3 separate regions of the Homo sapiens genome follow, and all the other regions are reported to be linked to region 3. Evidence: microRNA targets listed by miRTarBase, many of them from high-throughput screens and not tested one by one. Region 3 holds a microRNA gene; each other region holds the end of a gene's coding sequence.

The links. The annotated mature microRNA hsa-miR-223-3p reads UGUCAGUUUGUCAAAUACCCCA and lies in region 3 at 2,178-2,199, opposite strand. An mRNA with a match to its seed (bases 2 to 7 or 8) in the 3' UTR can be bound and repressed. Matches are read on the target gene's strand: a 7mer-m8 pairs with bases 2 to 8, a 7mer-A1 pairs with bases 2 to 7 and ends in A, and an 8mer does both.
Region 1: the mRNA of NMNAT2 is a reported target of hsa-miR-223-3p. The part of its 3' UTR that is shown has no 7-base or 8-base seed match.
Region 2: the mRNA of NFIA is a reported target of hsa-miR-223-3p. Seed matches in the 3' UTR shown: 8mer at 1,115-1,122 and 7mer-A1 at 1,689-1,695.

What each region holds. Positions count from the first base shown.
Region 1 is chr1:183,249,344-183,253,343 of GRCh38, reverse strand. It overlaps NMNAT2 (nicotinamide nucleotide adenylyltransferase 2), which reads left to right. Exons shown (of 11, transcript NM_015039.4): 11 at 601-4,000. The coding sequence ends at 703. It also overlaps a transcript of LAMC2 not described here. Among named protein-coding and RNA genes, the nearest start is that of LAMC2, 65 kb to the right of the region's middle.
Region 2 is chr1:61,455,017-61,459,016 of GRCh38, forward strand. NFIA (nuclear factor I A) reads left to right here. Exons shown (of 11, transcript NM_001134673.4): 11 at 287-4,000. The coding sequence ends at 304. Among named protein-coding and RNA genes, the nearest start is that of NFIA-AS1, 200 kb to the left of the region's middle.
Region 3 is chrX:66,016,984-66,021,135 of GRCh38, reverse strand. It overlaps MIR223 (microRNA 223), which reads right to left and starts at 2,266; the gene lies at 2,157-2,266. It overlaps MIR223HG (MIR223 host gene), which reads right to left. Exons shown (of 3, transcript NR_170299.1): 2 at 3,947-4,071; 3 at 710-2,312.

The sequences.
Region 1 (4,000 bases), not on the chromosome of region 3:
ATAATATAATATTAACACTTATATAAATAATATAATATAATATAATATTAACACTATTATATAAATAATATAATATAGTATAATATATAAATTATAAAATATATAATAAATATGTAATATAACATAGATATACTATATTATATGATGATAATATATGTGTATCTTACAACATCAGATTGTATGACTTAAATATACACAATACAATTTATTTGAGAAAAAAGAATAGTGAATACATTAGATGCCCACTGTGTGTCTGGCACTCTTCTAAGTGCTTTGCATAATGACTCATTTAATCCTTTGAATAACTAAATGAGAGGGGCCCAGATATTACCCTCATTTTACAGGAAAAAAACTGAAGAACAGAGGGGCTTAAATAACTTTCCCAAGGCCTCTCACCTAGGAAGTGGCAGAACCACGATGAATGATGTCACCAAGGTGGGGAAGGAGTTGTGGAGGCAAGAGGGCCTTTCCTAATACAGAACTATTTACTCAACCTGAGAAAAGGCTACAAATGGGGTGCTGGGGAGACAGGGGCATGCCAGTCCTCCTGACTTGCTTTGGGTGTGGATGTCCATCTGATTGTCATCTCTTCTTGTGCAGGCTGGCCCTGCAGCATGGGGACGGCCATGTTGTGGATTACCTGTCCCAGCCGGTCATCGACTACATCCTCAAAAGCCAGCTGTACATCAATGCCTCCGGCTAGCAGCCCCTCGTCCTCCGGCAACACAATGGCCCCTCCATCTTTGTCAGCCCCCTGTTTCTCTCCTGCCTCTCTGTTTCTCCATCTCCTCGTCTTGACTGTTTTCCCTACTTGCTGACTTAACCCCCCATAGTGTGGGGGACCTGCAGAGAACCATGGCATTCCCTATTCCACAGTCATCTTTGGACAGACTTTCCTCTAGTCTCCGGGTTGGGGGTGGGTGAGGGAATGGGGTGGGAGTCGGGGGAAGTGCAGTCCTTGGAGATGTACTGGTGTCCGTCTCCCAGCATGCTCTAGAGAGGCGGCTCTGGTGCCCATCCTCCCAGCACGCTCTGGGGAGGCGGCTCTGGTGCCCATCCTCCCAGCATGCTCTAGAGAGGCGGCTCTGGTGCCCCTCCTCCCAGCATGCTCTGGGGAGGCGGCTCTGGCTCTTGCCTTCCCAGCATGCCCTTTACTACAAAGGGCTATTTTTCTTTTCTTTCTTTTGTTTATTTATTTTTCTTTGTTCACTCCCTGTAGAACTTGGATGAAATCAGTGTCCATGGTTCTTTATGTTTGTAGTCTTGATGTGCTCCTGTGGTATTACTTCCCCTCTGATAGGACATTGTAGCCAGCCTCAGCACTCAGTGAGTTCATCAGGGCCACACCCAGTAGAGAAGGCCAAGCAACCTCCACTTCTTCAGCACCACACACACGCACACACACACACACGCACACATGCGTGTGCACCCGCGCACGCACATACACACACACATATAGCAGTAGCAGCAGCAGCAGCAGCAGCAGCAACCTTTGATCAGGAGTGAGATTTTCGGGTTCTGAAACCTGGGACACGAGTCTGTGAATAGTCGGTTTTCTCAGAATAATTTGAATCTGTTTTCTTAGTTTCAAATGACCATTTCCCTGATGCTCTGAGCTTATGATCACACAGAGCCAGTCCATCCTCATTTCCTGGTGGCATCTGTTCATTTACCTTTGTGGACTGTAGCTGATGGCACAGTGCGGGTTCCCTACCAGCCAGGGGTTTCCAAGGGACCTTTGGAGGCCATGCTTAGACACATTCCTGTACCTGAGAACAACCACATAGGCAGGACCAGATCCACATCGTGCAGTCGTGTCATAAAAAAACAAAACAAAACAAAAAAACACTAGGAGTCCACTCAACCCTGGAGGTCTTTGCTAATTGGAATTATGTATTGTCTGTTGGGCTGGGAAATGTCTCTTTCATATTGTAAGTCCAGGATGAACTAGGAGAAAGCAATTTGTTGCCCTGATGATAACTGATGATTTTCACCCTCTCTAGCTGAGGTAACTCAGACAGTGCATGAGGTCAGTTTCTTCTTGAGAAGCAGTGCCTTGGTCTTGTTTCTGTGGTTGGTTCTAGCCCCTGCAGAGCCTGGGAGCTGCAGGAACTGTCTGAGAAAATCTCCCTAATAGGGGAGTGGGTTCCCAGAAGGGAGATCTGGGAGGGGTCAGGAGCCACTAAGTTGCTTCACTCCTTTTTTCTCTAATTTTCTACCTTCCTCTCTGTTCCTGCAGACAGTTTTGCCAGCTTTGCTTCTGGTTACTAGGGTCTCATGCGTGTCCTGCTTGGAGAGCCATAAGGAAATTGCTGTCTTGTGCTTTGTGTCTCTCATCCAGTCTCTGGCTCTTGGGATTCTGGTCTTTGAGAAATAGTCCCTGAGTATTAGGATACTTTTATCAAAATCTAGTACCAGCTACGGCCAGAAAGGGCCAGGTGGGACCTGAAAGCAAAGACAATGTTCTTTACCACACGTTTCACATCTGCAACATCCTTCAATTGCGGGAAAAGGAACTTGATTTAACAGAAGAACATGGTAGAGCAGCATCCAGAAAGTCTGTTATTCCTCTTGGATTTTTTGAAATAATCTTCAGAGGAAGGAAGGAAAATCCTATTTTGGGGTATCAGTGTTTGACTAGGGATCATGAAATAATAAACTGAAAAAAACTTTAGAGTTCAGTTGATCCAACACTTTCCTTTAAAAGTTGAGGGAGCAGAGGCCCATGGGATTAAATGGCTGGTCCAGGTCAGCCAGCAGGTGTAGGGCCTGACAAGAACATATTGTTTCCCTGACCCCTAGGCCGTCACACCACACCCTCCATTTCCTCATGTTGCTGACCAGGTGCCCATATGATTTCTACACTTCCCAAGCCTTACCCTGGCATCTTTCTTTTAAATTATATCTGTCCCAGGTGCTCTCCACACATAGGATGGTAATGCCAGTCCCAGGGGAGGGTGTGATAGTAAGGAAGGCCACTGTTAGGTTTCCTTTAGAAATAAAGAGATCTCAGCAGCTTGGAAGAAATCCCAGAAGCGGACTCCATCAATCCAAGAAAGAGTTGCTTTGTGGAAGGTGAAGGAAGACCCACAGAGTGCTCAGGATGATGCTATTGCTGGAGAGCGAAAGATGGAACAGCCTTGTCCAGGCAGAACAGTCATAAGCCAGGAAATGAAACAAAGGAAAACAGGTGCCTGAATTTCCTGGGGAAACATGGCTTGTTTAAGGACTTGGAGTTATGGATGGAATTTATGGGACCCACGTGAGCAGACCTGAGGAAGGCTCGATTTCTTTTGTTTCTTGGTCCACTCTGTCACTCTGCTCTGGTCAAGCCCCATTTGGTCTACAGCCCATGAGAAGGAATGAGGCTGGTTCTGCACTCTCAGCATGCAGTCCGAAAGCATGTGGGAGTGGGGAGGGAAAGTGAGATGAATTAAGACAAAGAACAGGTGCCATAGAAGTAGATTTCTAGGAATGAAGTGGGGCAGATCTTATCTTTGTGGATTACAGGCACTGTACTAAAAACAGGTTTCCTATTTAATATAAAAAGAAAGTGAATCTTCTTTTGGATAGAATCATCCATTCCCATCGCCGCACCCCCTACCCCCCAAACACACACACACACACACACACACACACACACACACACACACACACACACGCCCTACTCTTCATTTGCTAGGGGAAGGTCACAGCACAACTAAATCCAGGACAGGACATTGTGACCATGACCCAGCCACAGTCAATACCAGAAAGATGATTCAGAGTCTGAAGTGGTGCCCCAGGTGCCAACAGGATAACCTCTACCCCCCGACTTTGTCTCTGGGGTCCTGTTCCTTCCTGCAAAGCCCAATCCAAGACTGGCATGGCTCAGAGGTTGTGAGAAAGGCATGGACTGGAACAATCATGTCCAGAGGGGTCTGGAGCTTTGTTTCCTGTTCACCAGCAAAAAATGTCTCTCCCATTTTTCTGAAAGTGGCTGATGTAAGAACAGGCAGAA
Region 2 (4,000 bases), not on the chromosome of region 3:
AACAAAACCCTTATTTGTATTTCAAGTGAACAGAAATACCTCATTCTGTAAGATATACTCAGAATGTTGGAAAACCCCAATGAAGACAATGAATTATAATTTCAGAAGAATAAGATCAGTTTCAGTGTCACAGGATTTTTTATTGTCTGTCGTGCCTTTACTTTTCCCAGCGAATCCCTCCCGCATCCCTAACGTAGATCCTGATTTCGTGGTTGAAAAGGCAACTTCTAAAACACACGTTTTTACAAATTGTGATTTTAATTGTATTTTTCCTTTTGTCTTCCAGTCCTGGTACCTGGGATAAAAGTTGCAGCGTCCCACCATCCACCAGACAGACCACCTGACCCCTTCTCAACTCTGTAACATGGACGCAACCTCAACCCAGCGCAGTTACAACTTCACTATCAGCGGAAGGGGAGAAAAACCGATTCAAATCAACTTGTACATGGAAACAGCAAGCATTATGGTCAAACAGCAAAGGCCATAACCTTTTGGGATTTTTTTTTTTTTAAAATACTTTAGGGACTGTTGTAATTTCTCATATGGTGCTGGAAATGGTTGGGCTTTGTAACATTTGAAGTGTTTCCATGGTAGCGTGAGCATTAGGTGACGTGGCTAGCGGAGGACTACCCTTGCTCACTGACTTCCTGTTGTAACACACTTTCCTTACGGAGCCTGGCTGTTTCACAGTATTTCATGAATTTACCCACACAGGTGTGATCCTCCTTGAGCATTGAGGAGGCACATGGAGAACTAAATCTTTTGTAGTAGCTGAGATCTGCAATATATAACGGGACAGTCAAAGGGCAATGTTTTTCTGTAACATATTGGAAAAAGAAAATGCAGTTATATTCCTTTTTTATTTGTTCCTTTAGTTTGTTTTGGTTCAGCAGTCAGCAGTTAAGTATATAACATGGCCCGCAAGGACAATGAATCCACTCACATTGCAGAACAATTCCGAAAATGGCAAACTACTACTACTACTGTTCAGTTTTTTAAAAGTTTTGAAATGCTGCACTTACATTTAAAAAAACAACAACAACATTTTTTCAACAATTTCAACAATGACACAAAAATTCACATGGAAATGGGGAAGATGGTCTGTTTTGACAGAAACTGACAGGAATCAATCAAAACAATCGAATTTTGAATTGAGTAAAGTGCAATTTCATTGGATAGCTAAATATCTTTGTAAGATAGAGATTGTTGAAAATTCTATTTTTGTTTTTCTAGTCCTTTCACCCCAGGACTCTAAATTATTGGGGTAAAAAACAGCCTTGCAAGAAAAAGGGGAGCTATTTTTGCTTTTTATGTTTTTTATTGTTAAACTTGTATCCCTTTAAAAACTGAAGGAAATTAAAAAAAAAAAACAAAAAAACAAATCTAATGGTGCTTTTACCACAATATGTTAACTACATTAAATGCTAATTAATTATTTTCTGTTATCAAAGCACATGACTAAAATGAAATCATGGTATCTGTTAATTTTATAAGCTAGAAGTCACTATAATGGATTACGCCAATTCTAAAAAATTTTACACCTATCTGGCATCATAGGATTTATCAGTTATCAGACACCTCATTGTACCAGAGATTGTCCAGAAGTTTTAAAGACCTTTGCATCCCTGAACTGGGCTATGGGAAATAATAATAGTAATAATAATAATAATAATAATGATGAAACCAATACTGACACAAATGCTGGTGCCCATTCAGATCAAGGGTACTTGTTAGGGAAAAAAAAAAAAGTTTGCACCCCCAAACGTCCTGTATCTTATGAAAAAAAAAACAAAAAACAAAAACAAAAAAAAAACACAAAAAACCACAGAAACAAAAACAAAAAAAAGTGCAAGTGATTTTTCTACCAGACAGCGAAGCACCCCTTTGCTTCCCATGCGACTTCAAGAAGGTTTCCTATACTATACATATATATACGTTCTGGTTGGCAAGCCCTGCTGATCAGAGAAAGTCTCTGCATGTTCTAGTGTTAGTAACTAATTTTTATATAGTTAATGTAGGATAAAGTAGAGTGCATTAAGACACAATATTGTAATCCCTACTCTAGGCACTTGCCTTTAAACTATGTTTTTCAGCCCTTCAGAAGGGTTCTACTACTGTCCTATACAATCAAGTAACTGAAATTCTTGGGAAGACACTTTGCTCCTCATCTTTCTCCCCGAAACAATGTTGTTTTGTTTTGTTTTTTTTCCTTAATTTGCACGAAAACAAAAATTCCATATCAATGTGCCTTGCCCTGGATAGCGATTATTTGTGGAATTGTTGCACATGCTCCTCTATTGAAAGGGGTTTTTCCCTAGTCAAGCATTTGGAGACACTTTTTGTAAATGTGACTTTTATGTCAGCCATCGTCAGTTTCAACATCTAGAACTAAATAGAAAGCTAGTTGTTCCGCAGATAGGAGTAGTCTTTATTGTCCTGTACGGTCGGTGGCAGTGCTATTCTGAGATCTGTAGATGCTTAGAATATCAGTATTTTGGATGTTGCTGCATTTTACAATTTATTTGGAGTCTTCCTTTATTTTCCCCCAGATATATGAAAATATGCAATACCTGCTTATATCATGTAGAAAAGCTTAGCAATTATTAATTTTTCTTTTATTTTTTTTTATTTGACCAAAGTCGGTGCTGCACTTGACGCAGTGTGTTTTAGGTGTTTGTCTTTGTACTTTTTTGTGATTTTTGAATGCACGTGCGCAGGAAGGGCTCCTCTTAGAGAAGCAGTCAAACTGTGAAGCACTAAGCTGACCCTGCTTCAAGCAATTTTGTTTTTACAACTGTTCCTTTCACAAGCAAGCCTTAAAAAAAAAAAAGACAACTTCCTTTTTCTTCAGCTCCCACACCCCATTTTTCTTAGCAGACTGCAGTCAATCCACATTCAATAAAAAGTATATAATGCCCATTTTTATATGCACGTTTTTAAACTTCCAAGTTCTGAAAATTGTTTACTGGTTATCTCTATTTAAGGAAAAAAAAATAAAATAAAACATTTTGGATTTTCATATGTGTCTGATAAGTGGTTGAATAGTCGTTTGGCGCTGTTGTATGGTGTGATTGTCAGTGTATGGTGTCACTTCCTATAGCCAGCCAGCATACTTTGCCTTCCCCTATAGCACTTAGCTGGGCATTACTTTATTATGACATATGTGCACTAAAAAATGAAAAAAAGGAAAAAAAGAAAAAAAAAAAGAAAAAATAGCAGCTTTCAGTGCTTCACAGTGAAGGGAAAAAAGCCTAGACAAACATTTTGTCAGAACCTTGCAATAAGCCAAGGTATTACCAGTAAATTGGTTGTATATACAATAAAATTGCACCCTTTTTTAAACAAAACAAACTAAGCAATAGTTTGGGCAGTTTTAGTTGTTTTTAGTGAGCATGTTGTAGTCATGACTGCAAAGAGAGAGAATAAACTGCCCGCTCAGAAGATATGTAATTTGTATTGTTGTATAGTTTTATTGATTACACTGATTTATTCTACCCTATTTTATAATGCAGGACTTTTGTAATGTTGTTTAAATGAGGAAAAATTTCTGTCAAATTAGCCTAGTAAAATTTCTGATCGTTCATTATAAAGGCAGCGTTCATAGAATTGCTTTTCTTTCTTTTTACCCCCCCTTTGGGAACTGGATTTAAGTTTAAAACTTTCCTGTTTCCTTTTTTTTTTTTTTTTTGTAAGTATTTAAATACAATTATTTTTTTCTCTCAATGGTATAGCATATTCCTATGCTTGAGAAGTATAGGTCTACTGAAAAACCATTGTAAATGGACGTTACAGGTATGCTGTATTTTTGAAGGTATTTTGTTGTATTAAGTTTGATGAAGCTAAAATTAGGGAACTCTGAACAGATTTGCAGGAAAAAATGTTTTAAAGGCTTTAAAACATTAGGGAGGCAGTCTAGGGTGATAACGAACAGGGGTTAAGTATTAAATACACGAAGTTACATTTTTGTTCATGTTTCATTGTCCAGAAAGCAGCAGGAAAC
Region 3 (4,152 bases):
AAATCAGGCTCCGCTGTGAGGACCTGTTCTGACCCAGGTTGACACAGTTTTATTTTCTCGATGTAATTAATGTCAAATCAACTTCTGCACTCTTCAAGGAAGCTGCCATGTTGCTATTTCTGGTTCCCATGCAGCCCCTAGGTCAGCTCATGTTTCACAAGGAGCTGCTCCCCTTTTGCAATGATTACAGAAGTCAAAATAGTACACGAAAGTAACAAAAAGGAGTCCTCCACTTCACCGCCACCCAACATGCCAAATCCAGGGTAAAAACCTCAACATTTTCCTCATTCCAGACGCTAGCTTCTCCTAGTTGGCGAAAGGAACAACTCTTTCTTCCCCATCGTGCTTACAAGCCTCTGAAATAGGGCCTCCACCCAGTGGAAACCCCAACTTCCTTCATGAAACAACTCTGCGTCCAGACCCTACAGCCTTTGAAAATACCCATTATCTTTCCCTACTACCCATAGAAAAAGTGAGTTTTAGGTGTTGGGAAGAGAATCCTGGTTGCATTTTCACTGGTAAAAGGAGCCACACATCCAGGGACGCTGCTCCATAAGAGCTAAGGACTCCCAGGGATATCTCAAAGTCATTAATCTTAAAGAGCCTAGAGATCACTGATTCTAATACTTCCGTATTGGAGATGAGAAAATGAAGCTCAGAGAGGAACAAAAACACAGTTAGTGGTAGAAAGGAGACCAAAAGTCAGGCCTGTGAACTCCTCAGTGCATATATTTATTGCAGCATCTGGATCTTCTTTGCCTCAAAACTTAGAATATTTTTAAATACAGGACAAGCTAGTAAAGAATTCCTATGTAATAAAGATAGTCCACAGCTGCAGAGGCTAAACAAAAATGAGATGATAACATGTGACCTTTCTTAGGCAGATGGCTGGTTGGGGAAAGTAGATGAATGAAAAGAGGAAAAGATCTCCAGAAGAGCGGGAAGGTATAAAGTTTCTCTAGGACAGTTTCCCAAATCGTGCTTCATTGGACATTGACACAGGAGAAGGCTGTGGGGGAAAAGAAAATTCATGATCAGATAGGTATGGCAAATGCCTCATTCTATGGTTTCCTCTTTGAGATTCTCAATGCAACATTAGACTATTAAAGGCTCTGAAAAATCCTACAAGAAAACACCTGTATAACCTTGTGTGACCAAGTAATACCAAAATTTATTTGCCCTCTGAGTCTGCTATTTTGCCCTCTTCCTCCAGCCCTTGACACTGTTTCTCAGGAAGAAAACATCCTTCATGCTGGCTACTACCTCATATGCTCTATAACATTGTGGTGTTCACAGTTTGAATTTTTCAAAATCCAGGGTAGAATTTGGCCCCCAAACCTAAAGCTAGTGGACAAGAGGAAAGTCAATCAATCAGTAAATATTTATTATTTTCTGTAACTAAAGTACTGGGCTGTGGTAGGGGAGACAACAATCAAAGACATAGCCTTGTCTTCCAGAAGCTCACAATCTAGTTGGGAATTCAAGAATACCCCTTAGAAAAGTTCATTGACAATTTACGAGGTGCTATTAGACAGTAGGAGAGAAAGGCATACATACCAGGGCCCAGGGAAGAAGAGCTTTGTGAATGAAGAAGGAAAAAGTGTAAGTTGACTTTCAAAAGTCTCTGGAAACACTGGACTTTAGCTGGTCCAGGAAATATAGGGAAGAATTGGATAGGCAGGAATAAATGGAGAAAGTGTTCCTACAGGAAAAGACATGTGGAAAAGGGGAGAGGTAGGCAAGATCAAGGAGTGTTTAGAAGGCAAGACTGAGTATCAAGAAAGTGAATTTCTAAGCCCTGCTTACTCAGATAAGCCATTAGGCTTGTGTGAGAATGCTGATGTCCTAGATAGGAGACTCTGGGAGGGGAATATGAAGGAAGAAAATAATAATGAATCAAAGAGCACTTCCATTCCTGGACACTTTATACATTTTCAAGACTATTGCGCCCCCATCAGCACTCTCATGGTGTGTGTAGACACAGCCCAGGGCTGTATTTCCCTGAGATGCCACACTTTTCCCCTGGTGTCCTCAGATATAATGCCTCAGTTCCTGCAAAGTCACATAAAATAACTTGTGAGAACTTGGTGCTTGGTGAGCATCCTTGTATCCAGCTGGCAGTCCATTCGTCATATCCCATCTGCCCTGGCCTAGAGCTGGTAAGCATGTGCCGCACTTGGGGTATTTGACAAACTGACACTCTACCACATGGAGTGTCCAACTCAGCTTGTCAAATACACGGAGCGTGGCACTGCAGGAGGCCAGGCCAAGAGCTTCTGTGGGGAAGTGAGATCTTCCTGGGAGATGTGACCCTAGAGGGAAAGAGAGAGAAAGGAATGATGAAGTCACACCCTTAGCCCCGGGGATCTTGCTCAAAGGACCAACCAAAGCACCAGAATAGGGAAGTGAGCAAAATAGGCATAGGGTTCCTAACCAGAAGAGAGATCCTGAAGATAAGCAGGTAAAGCCCGAGTGACACCCAGTGCTCAGCTGGAAGCTCATCAGGCCTGAGTCCTGTAGCTATGGCATTTCTAGGGGTCCCAAGCTTCAGTGGGTTCCTCTATGCAGCAGAGAGGGGAAAATTTGGTCATCATCCTGCCTCCCTGACTTGAGGAAAGTACCAGACCCTAGAGTCAGCATCCTTGCTCCCTCTTCTCAATTCTCCCAAGCTGTGTTTTCAGTGTTGTGGTTATGCACATAGGCTTTGAGGTTAAACATGAGCTTAAATCCTAGTTCTTCCATTAGCTAGTTAGGCAACCTTGGATACATCATTTCACCTCTCTGAGCTCAAGTTTTCTACACCCACAAAATGTATGTAAGTATAATACCTACCTCATAAGGTTATTGTGAGAATGACAGGAGATAATGCATGTAAAGCCTTTGGTTCAGTATTCAATACATAACAAATGCTCAAAAAGTAGTGGTTGTGTGACCAAAATGAAAGAAAGAGCTATTGGCAATTGATTTAGCAGGATCTGGACAGGTGTGACATTGATTTCTTGTGGTCTCAGCCTTGCCTAACATGATCCTCTTGTCCCATAGGGACTCAAGAATGGCAGCTATTAAAGTGCCCTTAAAGATCATCTAGTCTCACTCACTTAGGTTATAAATGAGATAACAAAGGCTCCTGTTGGGGAGGAGACTTGTAAAGTTTATACAATAAATTTTTTACAGTTCAGCAGTATGCCTTATACAGCTTTCCTCATTGGTTATTTTGCCTCCCTTCTCTGTATATCCCTCTGGGAAAGGGAAGACACATCAACAAAGAGGGCAAAAACAGGCAATAGCTTTGTAATGCAACATTTGGGATCACTGAACCCACAAGCCACCAGGGCAATAAGGAAGCTGCCAGGAGCAGGGTCAGGTCTGAAACTTCTGGGAGAATTCCCTTGGCAACAATCAGATCCTGTTGCTAAAAATCCCAGGTTGCTGGTGTCAAATTACTGCCCTTACCAGCTGTGGCAGTTGATCTGTGAGCAGGTAGCTGGTCTACATTAAATATTGTCATGAAAAGTGGCAAACATCACAAGGTTACCAGAAATGGTAAACTGCCCCCATGAGGCCGGAAAGCCCTGTCCCAGCCCAGGTAAGACAGAGGGATTCAGCCTTGTCTTTCAGCAAGAAAACAATCAGTGTCTTTTCTTGCTCTATTCTTTTAATTGAATGTTAAGAAGGTAACATACTCCTTCAATTTAAGTTCTGGCAGTCATCTCAAAACTAAAGCTCTTTCACTCCCTCACTTCCTTTTCTACCTACCCAATTCAGCCTAATCCACCCAGCAGCAAAAGCAGCAGTCATGGTCACCAAATATGGCATGACAGAATCGACAAACTTGTGTTCTAATGCTGTCTTGGCCATCAACTAGCCAATCATGGCTTGGGCAAGTCTTTCTTTGGGTTTCAGTTGTCTTCTCTGGAAATGAGAACAAGGAGACTTACCTACTTACCTGGCAAAGTTGTTGGAAAGTGTTGCTAAGCTTTCCAGAGCCTCCCACATAGGAGCTCAAAAGGACCTTGTCTCAGCCCCTGGACCTATGGTTGGAGGCCAGCCAAGCAAGCTGATTAACAGAGTCTGAGTTGGGGATGGCAGGAGAAAAAGAAATGGATTGTTACCTTTTTTGTATCATTACACTCATTGGCTGTCAGCTCCAGT